2 separate regions of the Homo sapiens genome follow, and region 2 is linked to region 1. The links come from fine-mapping of genetic effects on gene expression. A gene starts in region 1. The other region holds a variant in brackets. All regions are shown on one strand. Distances are from middle to middle. Region 1 holds the start of RHPN1 (rhophilin Rho GTPase binding protein 1). Region 2 overlaps TOP1MT (DNA topoisomerase I mitochondrial).

Region 1 (9,036 bases):
TCCCCCAAATCCCCGCCCCGTCCCCTGGAACCCGCGCCATCCCCAAACCCCCACACCGTCCCCTGGAACCCACGCCATCCCCCAAATCCCCGCCCCGTCCCCTGGAACCCACACCATCCCCCAAGCCCCCGCCCCGTCCCCTGGAACCCGCGCCATCCCCAAACCCCCACACCGTCCCCTGGAACCCGCGCCATCCCCAAACCCCCACACCGTCCCCTGGAACCCACGCCATCCCCAAACCCCCACACCGTCCCCTGGAACCCACACCATCCCCCAAGCCCCCGCCCCGTCCCCTGGAACCCGCGCCATCCCCAAACCCCCACACCGTCCCCTGGAACCCACGCCATCCCCAAACCCCCACACCATCCCCTGGAACCCGCGCCATCCCCAAACCCCCACACCGTCCCCTGGAACCCACACCATCCCCCAAGCCCCCGCACCATCCCCTGGAACCCACGCCATCCCCCAAGCCCCTGCACCATCCCCTGGAACCCACGCCATCCCCAAACCCCCACACCGTCCCCTGGAACCCACACCATCCCCCAAGCCCCCGCACCGTCCCCTGGAACCCACGCCATCCCCAAACCCCCGCACCGTCCCCTGGAACCCACGCCATCCCCAAACCCCCACACCATCCCCTGGAACCCGCGCCATCCCCAAACCCCCACACCGTCCCCTGGAACCCGCGCCATCCCCAAACCCCCACACCGTCCCCTGGAACCCACACCATCCCCCAAGCCCCTGCACCATCCCCTGGAACCCACGCCATCCCCCAAACCCCCGCATTGTCCCCCAGACACCTGTGCCATCCCCCAAACCCCTGCGCCATCTGCTGGACACCCACGCCATCCCCCAGACACCTGTACCATCCCCCAAACCCCTGTACTGTCTGCTGGACACCCGCACCATCCCCTGGACACCCAGGCCGGCAGCCTCCTGCTGAGTGCTGGGGTGAGGGAGCCTGACGGAGGTCCCTGAACTGAAGATGAGTTGGCGCTTAGGGGCCGGAGGGAGGGACACAGGCGGCCGGAGGGATGGACACAGGCAGCTGGAGGGAGGGACACAGGCAGCCGGAAGGAGGGTGTGCCGGCCCAGGACCCTGGCCTCCCCCAGCCCAGCCCTGCCCCCGTGGACACCACCCAGCAGCGGACGGGCCGATGTGCACTTGGGAACCCTCACCCTGCTCCCGTTTCTCACTCCCGCCTCCTCCAGAAAAGAAATTCCCTCCAGAGCTGCTTCAGGGACTCGGGCTGGAGAGGCCCACAGGTGGGAGAGGGGCATGGGCGCCTCAGATCTGAGAAGCTCCCTGAACCTGAGGCCCGCCCACCCCCGCCTCCCATCCCTACCTTTCCCACCGGCGCTACCACCTCGAGGGCCTCTGCCCAGTACCTAGGAGACCCCCGTGCCACCCACCGCAGCTACACCCCCTCCCCGCAAAGGCCCCGCTGCAAGGCTCCAGCAGCTTTAAGGGCTCTGGCTGTGCGACGGGCATCAGACACCCAGCCAGGTCCCTGCTCCCCTCCTGGCCCCAGGAGAGCTGCGGGGAGCCTGGCCCCTTGGAGCCCCACAGGCACCTGCTGTGGGCCTGGTCCATTCCTCGGCCTCCCTACCCGCAGTGCTCCCTGCAGGCCAAGTGACTTCCCGGCCTACAGGCGGAGGAGCAGACCCGAGCCGGACCTTTGAGGCTGGGTAGACCTTGGAGGTGGGCGGCCCATGCCCCACTTTCCACACTGGGTTGAAGGTTGAGCCCAGTGGAAGGGGCATAGACACAGGCGTTCAGGCCCCTACTCCTGCTACAACCTCCCCACCCTCTGGAGACAAAGGTGACCTGGAGCTCCCCACCCCCACGTCCACGGTGCCCTGACACCCCACTGTGGCCATTTCCGCCTTGCATTAGGAAAGGACAGAGAGGCTGTGGTCTGTGGGGGTCCCGAGAGGCAGCCACACATGAAGGGCCTGGCCATGCCTCGATGGAGAGGGACGAAGAACAGAGAAACAGCCCCCCAACCCTGACACTGGGGCTCCTCTGCCCAGGAGGAAACAGTGTGGCCCTGGCCAGAGTGGGGCTGACCTGGGGACGGGCAAAAGGCAGAGATAGTTATCCCAGCCCAGGTCTGGGAACAGCAAAACATCAGAGCAGGGCCAGACCTCCACTCTCCCCCAGGATCCCCTGGCCCTGGGCCAGGCAGTCCCCAGGGAGAGGTCACCCACCTGGAGCAAACCAGCTTTTTCCCTTCAGAGCCCTGGCCCTGGGCACCCTGTATGCTGACAGCCACCCATCTCAGGTACCCCTCTCCTCTGCCCCCACTGAAGTCTCACCTGAATGCAAGAACTGGAAGCCCCAGGAGGGTGGAAGCCCAGCACCCACCTGACCCACCATCTCTGCCCCCCACTGATGAGGGAACAGAATTCAAAGGGCATTGCTGCACAGGTGTCTCCTGGGACACAGGGCTATAAGCAGCACGCACGCCAGAGGAATCATAGACTGGCCACTCACGGCAGGGACTCCCACTCTCTCTGATGCTCCCTGGGGTACCCAGGCACTGGTGCTTCCTGAGCACCCCTCTTCCTGGAGCCCAATCTACCTGGGCAGGGGCCTGGGAACCTGTAACCAGCACCCAGAGGGTGCTCCTGTCCAGCCAGGCTGGGGAACCTCAGGCTGACCCACTCGGCATGCTGGAGACCAGGTGAGGGGGGCACAGCCACCCTGCCCACCTGCTGCTCCAACGCTCTCCCTCTGCAGCCTGCTCCCCCTTCTCCCACTGGCCTCCCCAGGAAACCACAGAACCTTCTGCATACAGCCAGGCTGTATTCCTTGTGGTCCTCCCCCGGGAGCCCCTGCAGCCCCTGCGGGAGGGACGGCAGCTGGGTTGGCCACCCTGGGCCGTGCCAGGCTTCTCCCCTTCCCAGCTTGGCAGCCTTGGCCACTTACTCACCCTGTTCATCAGACGGGCTGAGGCCCAGGGCTTGGGAGGCACCAATGGCAGGACTCCAGCTGTAGCACTGGCCCTGGCACCAGGTAAGCGCTTGCTGGAAGCCTGCTCTCATCACGCCTGGGGCAAATACAAGTCACCCAGACCTGTCCACAGGGCCTCAGGCCCAGGTGTGGCCTCTAAGTGGATGAACGACCGACCCCTGACCCACTGAACTCTGAGCTTTAGGGCCAGTTTGGGGGCCAGCCTGATGGGGGTGGAACAGGCCTCACTCTAGCCCGGCAGCAGGCATCGGGGAAGACTTTCCAGATGGCAGGACAGCCTGAGTGGTGCGCGTGTGACACAGGGCCTGCCTCCGCCCCACTGCCACCTCCCACGGGCCCCTCCCCAGTACCCTGACTGTGGGGTCATTTCTGGACGCTGTGAGAGACACGGCAGCCTGGAAACAGCTTCTCCCCAACTTTCCAAGGTGGCAGCCCAGGGAGGGCCAGGACAGGGAGCCCAGGCACAGCCCCCAGCCTGAAAAGCGTCACCTCCGGAGCCCTCTGGGACATCTTGTTTGTACAGCCTCCCAAACATTCCACCCAAAACAACATGTGCCGTCCCAGGCCACCTGCAGGCATGGCCGCCCTGACAGAGCAAGTTCATAGGGGGCAGGCACAGGCTGCCTCTTTCCCTCCAGTGCCCAGGAGGTGCTGCAGCCTCTGGCACGCCTCGGGGTGGGCAAGAAGGGCGTCCTTGAGGGCTACGGTCAGCATCACCAGCCCAGTGACCTGAAGCCAAACCCTGGCTGATAGCACCGCCTCCTCCTCTAGGAGACCTAACCCCAAACACCAAAGCCGAGTAGAACCAGCCCAGGGACAACACAGTCTGACGTCCCAGAGGGGAGGAGGGCCGCGCGCTATCAAAGGCTCACCCGGGGCGAGGAGCAGGAGCAGCCCGCGGCTGAAAGCCCGTGGCGGGCGTGGGCGCCCAGGGCCTGGCAGGAGGACTGGGGCAGCCTCGAGCTGGTCCGCAGGGAACAAGCAGGCTCTGGGCTGCAGAGCAAGGCCCACAGACGTCCCCTCCTTCCCAGGCACAGACTCAGCAGGTCTCCACAGCCCTGCCCACCCCTCCCACTTGCCCAGTCAGCACCCCGGGTTAGGGACTTCAGAAGGGAAGGAGGTTTGGGAAGTGAGAAGAGGCCAGCCGGGAAGACCTCTCTCGGTTTCCCATACCCAGGAGGCTTCGCTGCCCGCTGCTACCAGTGCACCCAATGGGCATGCAGTTCCTGAGCGGATGCAGAGGGAGGACCGAACTAGGGAAGGAGGCTGTACAGGTGCCGGAAAGGAACACGATGGCGGGTGTGGGGAGGGCGCTCACAGAGCCCAGCCCCACATCCGCCCAGAAGGGGGACACGAGGAGGGCGTCCCCCCAACCCGCTTCAGCGGTGAGGATGATCCAGACTTTGGCTGTCCGCATTTCCCGGCTCACATGAGTGGCCTGGAAGCACCTCCACCGAGCTCAGAGGAGGAGGGACGCAGGCTCTGGCCTCAGTTTCCCTGCCTGCGTCCGGGCCGAATGAGACGTAGGAGGGGGGCGCCCGGAACGCGCCTCGAGGGGGGGCAGGAAAAGGCCGGGATTCCGGGCCCCTCCTCCCGCCGCCGCGCCAGTTCTGCGCACCTGCAGCCGCGGGCTCTCCTCGCCGGCGCCCGCGCCGTCCGGCCTCTCCTCCAGGATCATCGCCGCACCCGCTGCGCTGGGGGTCCCTCGGGGTCAGCCAGCCCGCCGCTCGCGCAGCGCTCCGCAGCCGGGCTAGGGCCGCCCGCACCACCTGGGCCGCGGGCTCCTGAGTGCCCGCGCCGGTCCCCGACTGTCCCTCCTGAGTGGGGGCGGCCCGCGGCGCGGCTGGGCGGGGCACGGGTCTGGCGTGCGAAGCTGGCCATTGCCCAATAGGCGGCAATGCCGCTTCGACGGACAGCTATATCAGCCAACCAGAGTTCCAGGAAGGCGGGCTCTGGACGGCCAGCTCCGCCCGCCCGCGGGACGGTAACCCCTGGCAACCGCGGCCGGAACGCCCGCGGCTGGCTGGCAGGTTGTACTGCGCATGCGCCGCGGCGGCCGCTGAGCGTGCGGGAGAAGTTCGGGAAACGGAGAAAAAAACTATACGGAACGTCCCAAGCTGAGAGTCAGGGCGGACCTGGACTCGGCGCGCCTAGCTCCTCGGCTCCCTTTGCGGGGACTCCAGGAGTCTGCCCGCTCGCGCCGTTTCGTCCTGTCACCCCGGCAACGGGACCCTCTAAGAGGCTTGTTCCAAAAATGTTCACAATGGGGTTTTTAAAAACGGTTTTGTTAGGGACAAGTGCTTGTGTGAGTCCTCCGACAATGCCTGCTTTCTTCTCTCTGCCCGCGGAGCGGAGGCTCCAGGCCTGGCCCCAGTCCGAGGCGCCTCTGTCGGTGTCGTCCTGCTTCCAAAACCGGCCTCCAGAACCCGCCTCCTTCCAGAACCTCCGTCCAGAACCCGCCTCCCTCCAGAACCTCCGTACAGAACCCACATCCTTCTAGCACCTGCCTCTGGAACCCACGTGCTTTCAGAACTACCTGTTTGTAGAACTTGTTTCCAGAACGAACCTGCTTTCCGAATCTCTTTACTTCCAGAGCTTGTTTCCTGGACTGACCTATTTTCAGAACCTACTTTCAAAACCAGCTTGCCTCCAGGACCACCTGCTTGGAGAACTGGCCTGCAGCCCCAGGACTGGACGACCTGAGACTGCACAGCTCCCTGCGGGGCTCACCCGGCTGTGTGTGTCCTTCCGGGCCTTCCATACTTCCCTAGGTGTCTGGTGACTCCGGAGCCCGCTCGGATTTCGTGTGGGTCTCGCCTCAGCTCAGAACACACCCTTTGAAGAGCAGGAAGGCCAGGGCACAGGCGGTAACCACGGCTCCTGGTCATCAAGTTCCTCTGAAGCCCAGGTCTTGTCCACGTTCACTGCCCCACCACAGGCCCAGCGGAGCCTTGGAGCTGAGCCCTGGGATCATTCTGGTGCCTGTGCTCCCGGCTCCGCAACAAGCACACAGGAGCCTGTCATCCCCAGATCTAAATCCTGAAGGCTAAGCTCCGTGGTCTGCCGCAGCCATCTGCAGCAGGCCCCTCCCAGCAACAGCCTTCTCATAAGGCCCCTGCCAGCCACGCGAAACCTCCTGGCTAGGGCCTGTCTTCCACTCCTGGCCTTTTGAGACAGGGCCTCACTCTGTTCCCCAGGCCGGAGTGCAGTGGTACGATCACAGCTCACTGCAGCCTCCACCTCCTGGGCTCATGTGATCCTCCCACCTCAGCCTCCTGAATAGCTGGGACTACAGGCTTGCACCACCACACCCGGCTAATTTTTGTATATTTTGTAGAGACAGGGTTTCGCCACATTGCCCAGGCCCAGGCTGGTCTCAAACTTCTGGGCTCAAGCAATTCATCTGCCTCAACCTCCCAAAAGTGCTGGATTACAGGGATGAGCCACCATACCCGGCTTTTTTTTTTCTTTCTCCTGGCCTTTTGGGGCCCTTGAAGTGTCTGCTCCCTGGGAGCCCTTCAGCTTGTCGTCCACTTGGTGGGTTCCCACCCGTCCTTCTCACTTCTGCCTGAATCACACAGGCTACATGAGACCTTCACCCACCCCCTTCGCCAGCAGCTCTGTGGTTCAAGTTTCCTCAAGGTTAGGGGCTCCTGGCCATCTTACCTGTGGGCCTGAGCATGGGCCGATGCTTCCAAAGTTCACACTGGGTGCACTTGTGTGGGGACTTCCATGTGAGTCATCTCCTTGCAGGCTGCCAAGGTCCTGTACAGCAGAGACCCAAACCCTCTTAGCAGTCTTCAGAGTCAGCTATGTGTACAGGAGGCATTACCATATCAGTGACTGTCAGCAAGCATGTGTGACTGAAATGGTATCCAGTTCTTACGTATTTGTTTTGCAGGCTTCTTGGTTCAGCAGACAGAGGCCATTGGGAAGTTAAGAGAGGCTCTCAAACTTTGAGGGTCATAAGACTTCCCCTCCCTGCAGGGTGCTGTTTCCTGAAGGAAAATATTCAATTACTATTTTCTTTATTTATTTATTGAGATGGAGTCTTGCTCTTGTCGCCCAGGCTGGAGTGTGTGCGTGTGCGTGTGTGCGTGTGCGTGTGTGTGCGTGCATATGTGCGTGTGTGCGTGTGTGTGTGTGTGTGTGTGTGTTGGAGGGGGGTGGTGCTGCCTTTTTCTTTGCATGCTTCTGTGTTACTGGATTTGGCACAGCAAGAATGTATCACTGCACTCAAAAAATTTAGAGTTTCCTTTTTGTTTTTTTAAATTATTTTAGATTTGGAGGTACATGTGTGGGTTTGTTACATGTGTATTGTGCACTTCTGAAGTTTAAAAATTTAGGGGGAAAAATGAAAGGATGGGAGGTGAGAAAGTAGAGGAGAATTTTGGTGTGACAGGCAGGGAACTGGACAGCGGCGGGAGGGGCACGGCAGTGAGCGCCGGGACCTTTTGCAGATGAGGTGATAATTGCTGATGGGGCTGCTTTATGCTCGTTTTCTCTTTTGTAATTTATAAAGAAAAAAAAATTGAGACAGGGTTTCGCCCTGTTGCCCAGGCTGGTCTTGAACTTCTGAGCTCCAGTGATCTGCCTGCCTTGGCCTCCCAAAGTGTTGGGATTATAGGTGTGAGCCACTGTGACTGGCCTTTTTTTTTTTTTTTGAGACAGGGTGGCTCTCTGTCGCCCAGGCTGGAGTGCAGTGGTGTGATCACAGCTCACTTCACTGCAGCCTCAACCTCCTAGGCTCAGGCAATCCTCCCACCTCGGTCTCCCAAGTAGCAGGGACCGCTTGCATGCGCCACCACATCCAGATAACTTTTGTATTTTTTGTAGAGATGGGGTCTCGCTATGTTGCCCAGGCTTGTCTCAAACTCTGGGCTCAAGCAATTGGCCCACCTTGGCCTCCCAAAGTGCTGGGATTACAGGTGTGAGCCGCTGTGCCTGGCCTGCTTTATGCTTTTATATGGACCAGTACTTTGCAAGTGTGAGCCTGGCAGACTCTTGCTGCAACCAGGAACATGCAGATTTTCCAGATGGGCAGGAACCTGGGCTCCTTTCTGAGCCTCCACATGTCCTGGGTGAAGACCTCAAGGTCTGGAGAGACTGACTGACTCACCCAAGGCCCAATGGCTGTGAGCGGGAAGCCAGGACTCCTCACAGCGCCAGCTTCTTCCATGCATGCCAGCCCATCTGCAGAGCCCGGTCAAGCTCAGGGGAACGCCACCACTGAACCAGAGAGGCAGCCAGGAGGAGGGGGTCTAGATAGAGAAATGTGGAAAAAGCAGCTGATTCCAGAAATTTCCTGCTTGGCCTGGATTAGGCCATGCTGGGGACTGGCTGCCCCTTGCCCAGTGGGTGCTGGGGCATTCAGGCTTGGGGTCTTTTAGGTCAGCCCTAAAAGTTGATGATTTGATGCTGATCGCTGGTACTTACTTCAGCTTTCCTTCTGGTTGGAAGCCTTAATTAGTGGAGGTTGCTGACACTGTTTATGCGCATCGGTATTTTTTTAGAATGTGGAGTGGAAGAGGTGGGCTTTGGGGGACTGGCTAAACCCCAAGAATTTAACTGGCCGTGTATTTTGGCCACTGTTGCGCCTGTTAAGATCTTGGAGTGTGGGTTTGCACCTGTATTTAGAGGTGCACAAACCCACACAAATTCAAGGATAAATAACTGCAAGGCCCGAAGAGAACACGCTCTCCCGCTGCACGCAGGCTGCTCAACTGTGATGAATGGAGTAACAGGTACCACAGGGCGAGCAGGACGCCTTCATCAATGGTGGTAATAGCCACCAATGCATCATCTGTGGAGGCAACAGGAGGGACGGCTGGGGCAGAATCAACAGAACGTGAAAATGAATTGTTTGTAAATACAATCAACAGTGTTATGTTCGTGAGAAAGCCATTCATCATTCAGAAACCACCTTTAGTAAAAGATGCACCTGGCTTCCCGGTGAGACGGGGCCATCAATCCCTCCCCAGTCACAGGGTCAGCTCGGGGCTGCCTAAACCCCCAGAGAACAGACACACATATTTATTCTTATTTGAAAATAAGAGTTG
Region 2 (8,517 bases), 42 kb after region 1:
TGCGTGTACACACATGGATCACAGAACGGTCACTTGACCCCAGCTTGTGATTCTCAGCAAGAAGCGGAGCCCGTGGTTGACATGAGCGCTGAGCCACCCTCAGAGGCAGGACCCGGGGGCTCTGGGGCAGCAGGGCCCACACACCCCTCCTGCCCTTGAGCCCTCCTCTCTACCCCAGGGCCCAGGAGCTTTGGCTTGGCTCTTGTGCTGCTGATTTTAGCTGCTTCAGCCTATTTTCTTCATCTCTGCTAGAAGGCATCCTTCTAAGAAAAGCAAACCTCTTCTCCCCCAGGGCAGGCCCCCACGCCATGCTGTGCCCCTCCCACCAGCCCTCCCGTGGGCCCCCTGCCGAGTCACATGCACACCTGAGTTTGCTGAGCTCCTTTGATGCAATGTTTTGTTCAAAGCCTGTTTCTCCAAAGCGGTACTGGAGCTTCCACAGGGACAGAGGTTCTAGCTGTGTCTGTGGGGGCTGCCCACGGGAGGCCATGGGACCTTACTGAGCGTCTCGCGCTGTGCCCCTGGCCTGGTGTAGCGGCTGCCTCGCCTGCCCCACAGCAGCCCTGCAGGACCTCCCTGGCCAGGAGGGACATGGCAGGCGAGGACTGCTTATGCAGGGCCATGGTGGACAGTCCGGGGAGTGGTGGTGTCGCGTGGGGCCCAGTGGGGCCGAGCCTCCACAGAGGGGCAGTGGGAGCTGAGCCCCTCGGGCCTGTGCTGCTGGTCTCTGGGCCTCTCGTCCTCTGTCCTGAGAAGCTAGTTTGGGGAAGGATTGCTGCTGTTTATCAGAAATGCCTTCCTCCTTCTTACCAAATGATTATGCATTTATTTCTCTAAAATTTTCTTATGAAAGCTTTTCAGACGTGCAGTTGAAAGAATTCCTGGTGAACACCCTCGTTCCCACCACGAGCCTCTCACTCTGCTCGCCTGCTCCCAGCTCACCCCCCATCTCTAAACCACACTGATCTTAGAATAAAATGCAGGGAATGGTGGGACAGAGGCCGCAGAGTTGTAAAAGGGTACACCTAGTTATTCAGTTTTCTGCTTTGAAGCCTTAACTTTTATTTTACTTGTGAAATTTTGTGGAAATTGGTGTGTTTTAAAATTGTACATGTTCCATTTTCATGTAATATAAATGTAGTAGCAACGTTAAGTGGTAAAGGAGGAGAAAGCAGTAGCGCCTGAAATCTTCTGCAGCTTTCTCACGACCCGCTCCCAGATCACTGTGGTCGCCACCTCCACGCAGGTTGATTGTCGTGTGTCATGCAGAACATGCTTCTGAACTTACAGAAGAAGGCCTAGCTTCTTGCTCTTGGCATAGTACGCACGAAAGCGTAGTTTAAAGCAATGAGGTCATGTCAGCTGGAGGCCGAGCCTCTGGCCGCTCTCTCATACGATGTGTCTTCCGATGCCTGCAGGAAGGCCTGTGAGATTGAGCGTGGCAGCGGAGGAGGTCGCCACTTTTTATGGGAGGATGTTAGATCATGAATACACAACAAAGGAGGTTTTCCGGAAGAACTTCTTCAATGACTGGCGAAAGGTAGGTACCCTGGGCGGCCGCCACAGCTGTCCTGGACCTGGCTGGCTAGGCGTCTGCGGTTCTGCAGTGCTGCCTCTGAACGCCCCTCGCAAGTTCTCGGTGGCCCCTGTGTGACCACTCACAGGTGCCGTCATGGCTCTTTGCAGCTTCGAGCTCCTGGGCTCAAGCCATCCTCCTGTCTCGGCCTCCTGAGTAGCTGGGACCATAGGCGGTGCCAGTGTGTCCAGCCTAGTGCACCTCAGACCTTTCCCTTCCCAGGCAGGCTGTGGATGTGGAGGCCGATTTGTGGTCCTTACTCCATGGACCGCTGAAAGGACAGGGGTCTGGCATATAAGAAGGAGAGTAGAGGAGGCCGCATGCCATTTCCCAGCCCCCAGGAAGACATGCTTGGCGAGAAGCTCTTTGGAGGGGAGGGTGCTGCCTCAAGGCTTTTTCCTTGCTCATTTTCAAGGTGACTGCCCTTCGCCCATGGCCTGACTGATTTTATGTGTGTGCCGCGGATTCTGTGCCCTCCGGGGTTTCTGTCTGCCCCACACCTGCGAGGCTCGCCCCTGACTGCTTGTCCCGCAGCATCTTCCTGGCTCTGGCCGGGTCGCGTTTCCTCTGTTCCGTGACTCATGCTAGTCCATTTCCCTATTCGTGGGTGTTTGATTAATTCCTGTTTTAGGCCTTTGCATGTGTAAAGCTGCCATGAACATTCCCACGTGGGTGAGGGCACATATGTGTGAGTTGCCTCTGACAGGACTTGGGGTGAAATTGCTGGGTCACGTGTGTCCAGCTTACTAGCAACACCAGGCTGAACTGTCCACACGCCTGCCGCGGGTGCGAGGCACCTTTCTAGTGGGCACAAAATGACACCTCGCCGTGGGTGTGGTTTGCGTTTCCCTAATGACAAGTGATATTAAGCATCTTTTGGTGTACTGACGTGTCATTTCAGTATTTTCTTTCGTGAACTTTTGTCTATTTAAAAAACTGAGTTGCTTGCGTATTCCTCGCTCATTTATCGGAGTTTTAAAAACGCATCCTGGGTGCAGGTTCTTTGCCAGACGCACATGCTGTGAATGTCATCTCCCAGACTTTGCCTTTTCACTTCTCAGTGAGGTCTCCAAACAGAAAACTGTAACTTAGTTATGCCGTTTATCAATCTGTCTTTTATGGTGAGTACTTTTGTGTCCTGTTTTAAGTCCATTATCAGAAATATGATTTGCAAAAATCTTTCATGGTGTTTGTAGTTTCTATTTGCGTTCTCTTAACAATGTCTTTGGAAGGTCAGGAGTTTGGAATACTGATGAGGTCCCACGTTTCATGTTTTGTCACAGGTTTGCTTTTGTTGTTTTGTCTAAGAAATCTGCTGAATTCGGCAGCACAGAGATTTCCTCCTATGTTTTTCCTAGAAGTTTTGGTTTTAGGTTTCCATTGAGGTCAGCTTGGTTTAGGTGGAACTCTGAGTTAATTTTGGTTATAGTGTGGGGTAGAGGCCGAGGCTCGTGTGTTGCATGTGGGTGTCTGACTGCCCCGAGCCAGCTGCTGGAGCCTGTGCTTCCTTGTCCCCTGTGCAGGCTCCGCTTCTGGACCCTCTTCTTTGGCCTGATGCCACCCCTCTGCCTTTCACGACAGCTTTGTGAGGTGGCACCAGCTGCCCGGCATCCTCATTCTCCCTCTGGTCAGCACTTCTTCCAGTCACTAGCAGAGCTAGGAAGGGAGGCAGTGTCACAAAGCAGCAGAACAGGAGTGGGTGGCACATCCGGCGGCCCCGGGAGACACAGGGACGGACCCTGAGCCCGTGGTTGTGGCCGAGCAGGGCTCCATCCTGGCACAGATGGTGTCGTACCTGAGCTCCTCGGAAGAGGCGGATCATCCCCATCCCACAGCGAGACACGTTTGACAGCAGCTCCTGAGGTCTCACAGGCCTAAGTGGCCGAGCCTGGACTGGGACCGTGAGCTGGTGCCCGCAAGCCTGGGCTTTTGTCCATGGGCTGTGCAGAGTTTTTGTTGTGTAGGAAACGAAAGGAGAAACAGTTGCCTGTGATCTGCGGCTCTCCCTCAGGTCAGTGTCTCCTGTTCCCGCGTCCTGGCTTTTCCTGGGCACTAGTTTTCGTGTGAGTGTGATCAGTGTGCCTGTAATGTTTTCCCCACTTAGCATTTTATCCCGCTTAGTCTCCACACGGGTAGATCATCGTCAAACTGTTTTCTGCTGTGCTTTCCAAAATTCACCTTGAAACTGAATCCCCAGCACCACAGGACAGAGGGAGGGCCTTTAGGAGCTGATTGGGCTGTGAGGACTCCACCTTGCTGCAGCCCTTAGGATTAATTTAGGGCCTTAGGGCAGGGCTGGGTGGAATTAGCTGGGCCCCTTCTGTCCTTCTGTCCCCTCCACTGTGTGAGGACAGCCTTCAGGGCATCCTCTCAGAAGCAGGGACTGGGCCCTCCATAGACGTCAAATGCTGGGACCCTGATCCCAGCCTTCCAGCCCCCAGAGCTGTGACTATGATTTACAACTGACCAGTCCCCGGTATTTTGTGGCAGCAGCACGTATGGACTGAGACTTTGCCCTCGCGAATCCCGTCACGTTCACCAGATGAGCTCCCGACCATGTATCCTGCTCTGTCCGGTCATGACGTTTCTGCAGTTGCCCTTAGTGCGGTCGTCATCCGGGTTTTCATACTGGAGAGTTTATTTAGGATGGATCTCAAAGTGGAATTATTGGGTGCAAAGGTTTTAGCCAGTTTTACTACTGACTTGTTGTGAAGTTGCTTTTGGAGAACTGTGCCCTCCGCTGCCCCACCCAACTCCATGCCTGCAATAACAGAACCAGCTCTATCTGTGGGGTCTGCGGGGAGAGGCTCTATTTACGGGGCCGCAGGACCGTGCGCAGGTTCTGCCTATTGCACACACGCCTCCGTCGGACATGGCGAGAGCGCGTTTCTGTCCGTCAGACATGGCGAGAGCGCTCTGCATGTCTGTCCTTCAGACATGGTGAGAGCGCGTGTCTGTGGTTTTTGCAGGAAATGGCGGTGGAAGAGAGGGAAGTCATCAAGAGCCTGGACAAGTGTGACTTCACGGAGATCCACAGATACTTTGTGGACAAGGCCGCAGCCCGGAAAGTCCTGAGCAGGGAGGAGAAGCAGGTTGGGCTGCCTCGAGCGTTGTGTGACCTGAAGTGGCCCCTGGGAACGAGAGGCCGGCCTGGCCCAAAGACTGAGAAAGGCCTGTGGCCTTAGAGAAGCCCCTTCTCACAAAGCTGCTCTTTTCTCGTCAGCCTTAGCGCCCCTGCATGTGCTTAAGTGTCGTTCCGCTTCCCCAGAGCACATTTGAGAGTAAACCCGGTTTGAAATGGATAATTTACCATCATTGATCAAGGGTGGGTTCCCAGACGGGCCGTGGGCTGAGGGCGGGGCTTGTGCAGGCCAGTCG[G/A]CTTCTTGCTGTTCTGTGCCATGCGTCTCCCTACATCTAACAGGAACCTGCCGTGCTGTGATCTCCATGTGGCCTTCTCAGGGATTCCCTTAGCCCTCCTCCTCCATGGCGGGCAGCCACGCTCCCTCCACCTGGCTTTACTGCTTAGGCCTAAAACAGCCGAAGTCTGTGCAGGGGCCGGGGAGTCCAGGCCATGGGGTGGTTAGGCCATGGCTCTCGGTGCCCCCTGCAAGCCCACCTGCACTGTCCCCTGCCCCTGCAACCTCCATGGATTGTGAAGGGCTTTGAGGGTCCAGCTGAGTTAGCCAGACAGAGCAGGGTGGTCCCGGGTTAGCAACAACGGACTGAGGCCTGTTCTCTTCTCTTCACTGCTAATGTCCACTGACTGTTTTATTAACTCAGAAGCTAAAAGAAGAGGCAGAAAAACTTCAGCAAGAGTTCGGCTACTGTATTTTAGATGGTCACCAAGAAAAAATAGGCAACTTCAAGATTGAGCCGCCTGGCTTGTTCCGTGGCCGTGGCGACCATCCCAAGATGGGGATGCTGAAGAGAAGGATCACGCCAGAGGATGTGGTTATCAACTGCAGCAGGTGCGTGGCCGGGCGGGCAGCAGGCGGGCACTGGACCCCCGCCACCCGGGTGAGGCTGGCTTTTCTTCACCTCCTGGGAGAGGGAGGCACACCGAGAAACATGTGGTTGGTGACCCCCACACCATTCCTGTGGAGCTCAGCCTGTAGGCGTGGCCGGGCAAGGGCGGCCTTCCCAGGGTGCTTCCCACGGGGTCGGAAGTCCTCGCCTTGCTATGGCTGAGACTTTCTCCCGCCAAGGACACCTCCATGTGGTTTTCATATCCCACACCATCTGGATGGCCCAGTAGCATTAGGTGTTTTGAACTTATTGGAGGGACATTCCAAGTGGTGGAGAGGGGACTGCTGGGCCACATGTTGTACTGTGTGACCACAGGGTGGAGTAGGGACCCTGCCTGCAGGACCCCCAGTGGCCAGGCTGTGTGGGGCAGGGCACTCGTCGTCCCAGTTGGTGCTGAGAGGTCTGTGCAGAGCGGTGCCTTGCTTGGGTGGCCGCCCAGCCTCCTGGTGCACTGTGGCCTTCCTGTGTGTGCAGAGGGTAGATTGAGTGGCTGCTTTTGTCTGAGCTGCCAGGCAGGCCACCTCTGATGCCAGACTCGGTCAGGAGCCATGCCACCACCATAGCCACCACGTGGGACGGTTGACCAGAGCAGCTCCTTTTGCTTGCATTCCAGAGAATAAGGTCTCCAAGTTATGTTTGGGTCGTTGTTCTGCTGCAGGGACTCGAAGATCCCCGAGCCGCCGGCGGGGCACCAGTGGAAGGAGGTGCGCTCCGATAACACCGTCACGTGGCTGGCAGCTTGGACCGAGAGCGTTCAGAACTCCATCAAGTACATCATGCTGAACCCTTGCTCGAAGCTGAAGGTGAGCGCAGGGCTTGGCAGGGTGTTTCCTCCCCAGGAGGTCCCCCTGAGGACGCCGGCAGGGAGGTGTGTAAGCCGGGCACCGGCAGAGGCTTCTGAGATGGGCTGGGAGTCGGCCAGCCCGTGCTGAGGTCATGCTGTGCCAGCAGGCACAAGCCCCAAAGCCAGGAGTGGGCATGGGTGCTCACTGCCGGCATCACCCAGCTAGATTTGCTGCCCCAGCCCCTGACCACGGCACCACTGAGTGGAGAAGCACGAGGTTTGGGGGAGGGAGAGTTGACAGCCTCCTCCGTTATTTAACAGGAATGTGAATGTTTTCTTTCCTGTTATTTTCTTCGTTTAGGGGGAGACAGCTTGGCAGAAGTTTGAAACAGCTCGACGCCTGCGGGGATTTGTGGACGAGATCCGCTCCCAGTACCGGGCTGACTGGAAGTCTCGGGAAATGAAGACGAGACAGCGGGCGGTGGCCCTGTATTTCATCGATAAGGTATGCGGCCTTCTCGCTTCCTGGCGGCTCTTCATCCTGGTTCTCCTGGCGAGGACTCCCAGTTGGATGGTGCAGTGTGGCGACGTGGGCCTGTGTGTGGGGTGGAACCTCATTCTGATGGGGGGGGTGTGTGCATGTGCACACGTGTGTGGGTGTGAACATGTGTGTAGGGTGTGCATGTGCATTGTGTGGTGTGTGTGCACTTGTGCGTGTGGTGTGCCTGTGTGTGGCATGTCTGTGTGGGGCGTGCATGTGTGTGGCGTGCATGTGTGTGTGGCGTGCATGTGTGTGGTGTGCCTGTGTGTGTGGCGTGCATGTGTGTGGCGTGCGTGTGTGGTGAGCATGTGTGTGGCGTGCGTGTGGCGTGCGTGTGTGGCGTGCCTGTGTGTGTGGCGTGCGTGTGTGTGTGGCGTGCCTGTGTGTGTGGCGTGCATGTGTGTGGCGTGCGTGTGTGGTGAGCATGTGTGTGGCGTGCATGTGTGTGTGGCGTGCCTGTGTGGCGTGCATGTGTGTGGCGTGCGTGTGTGGTGAGCATGTGTGTGGCGTGCGTGTGGCGTGCGTGTGTGGCGTGCCTGTGTGTGTGGCGTGCGTGTGTGGCGTGCCTGTGTGTGTGGCATGCATCTGTGTGGCGTGCCTGTGGGTGTGGCGTGCATGTGTGTGGCGTGCATGTGTGTGGCGTGCGTGTGGTGAGCATGTGTGTGGCGTGCGTGTGTGGCGTGCGTGTGTGGCGTGCATGTGTGTGGCGTGCCTGTGTGTGTGGCGTGCCTGTGTGTGGCGTGCCTGTGTGGCGTGCCTGTGTGTGGCATGCGTGTGTGGCGTGCCTGTGTGTGTGGCGTGCCTGTGTGGCGTGCCTGTGTGTGGTGTGCCTGTGTGTGTGGCGTGCATGTGTGGCGTGCGTGTTTGGCATGCCTGTGTGTGGCGTGCGTGTGTGGTGTGCCTGTGTGTGGCGTGCCTGTGTGGCGTGCATGTGTGTGTGTGCATGTGTGTGGCGTGCCTGTGTGTGGCGTGCGTGTGTGGCGTGCGTGCGTGTGTGGCGTGCGTGTGTGGCGTGTGTGGCGTGCCTGTGTGTGGCGTGCGTGTGTGGCGTGCGTGTGTGGCGTGCGTGTGGCGTGCGTGTGTTGCGTGCGTGTGGCGTGCGTGTGTGTTGCGTGCGTGTGTGGTGTGCGTGTGTGGCGTGCCTGTGTGTGGCATGCATGTGTGTGTGCATGTGTGTGGCGTGCCTGTGTGTGGCGTGCGTGTGTGGCGTGCGTGCGTGTGTGGCGTGTGTGGCGTGCCTGTGTGTGGCGTGCGTGTGGCGTGCGTGTGGCGTGCGTGTGTGGCGTGCGTGTGTGGCGTGCGTGTGTGGTGTGCGTGTGGCGTGTGTGTGTGACGTGCCTGTGTGGCATGCATGTGTGTGGCCTGCATGTGTGTGGCGTGCATGTGTGTGGCGTGTCTGTGTGTGGCGTGCGTGTGTGTGGCGTGCATCTTTGGCGTGCCTGTTGTGTGGCGTGCCTGTGTGTGTGGCGTGCGTGTGGCGTGCCTGTGTGGCGTGCCTGTGTGGCATGCCTGTGTGTGGCGTGCGTGTGGTGTGCATGTGTGTGGCGTGCGTGTGTGGTGAGCATGTGTGTGGCGTGCGTGTGTGGCGTG

What was found. PIP is the estimated chance that this variant, and not a neighbour inherited with it, causes the effect.
Region 2: its variant is fine-mapped to the expression of RHPN1 in whole blood (TOPMed, PIP above 0.99).

What each region holds. Positions count from the first base shown.
Region 1 is chr8:143,364,607-143,373,642 of GRCh38, reverse strand. RHPN1 (rhophilin Rho GTPase binding protein 1) reads right to left here and starts at 4,767. Exons shown (of 15, transcript NM_052924.3): 1 at 4,596-4,767. The coding sequence starts at 4,655. It overlaps RHPN1-AS1 (RHPN1 antisense RNA 1), which reads left to right and starts at 5,008. Exons shown (of 1, transcript NR_026785.1): 1 at 5,008-7,020. RefSeq lists enhancers at 2,699-3,605, 3,606-4,513, 5,254-5,809 and silencers at 4,301-4,350, 4,551-5,010, 5,021-5,090.
Region 2 is chr8:143,322,373-143,330,889 of GRCh38, reverse strand. It overlaps TOP1MT (DNA topoisomerase I mitochondrial), which reads left to right. Exons shown (of 14, transcript NM_052963.3): 3 at 1,419-1,540; 4 at 4,546-4,668; 5 at 5,357-5,544; 6 at 6,261-6,405; 7 at 6,748-6,891. Among named protein-coding and RNA genes, the nearest start is that of TOP1MT, 8.2 kb to the left of the region's middle. RefSeq lists enhancers at 7,170-7,831, 7,832-8,495, 8,496-8,517. The variant G/A (reference allele first, on the strand shown) is at 4,955.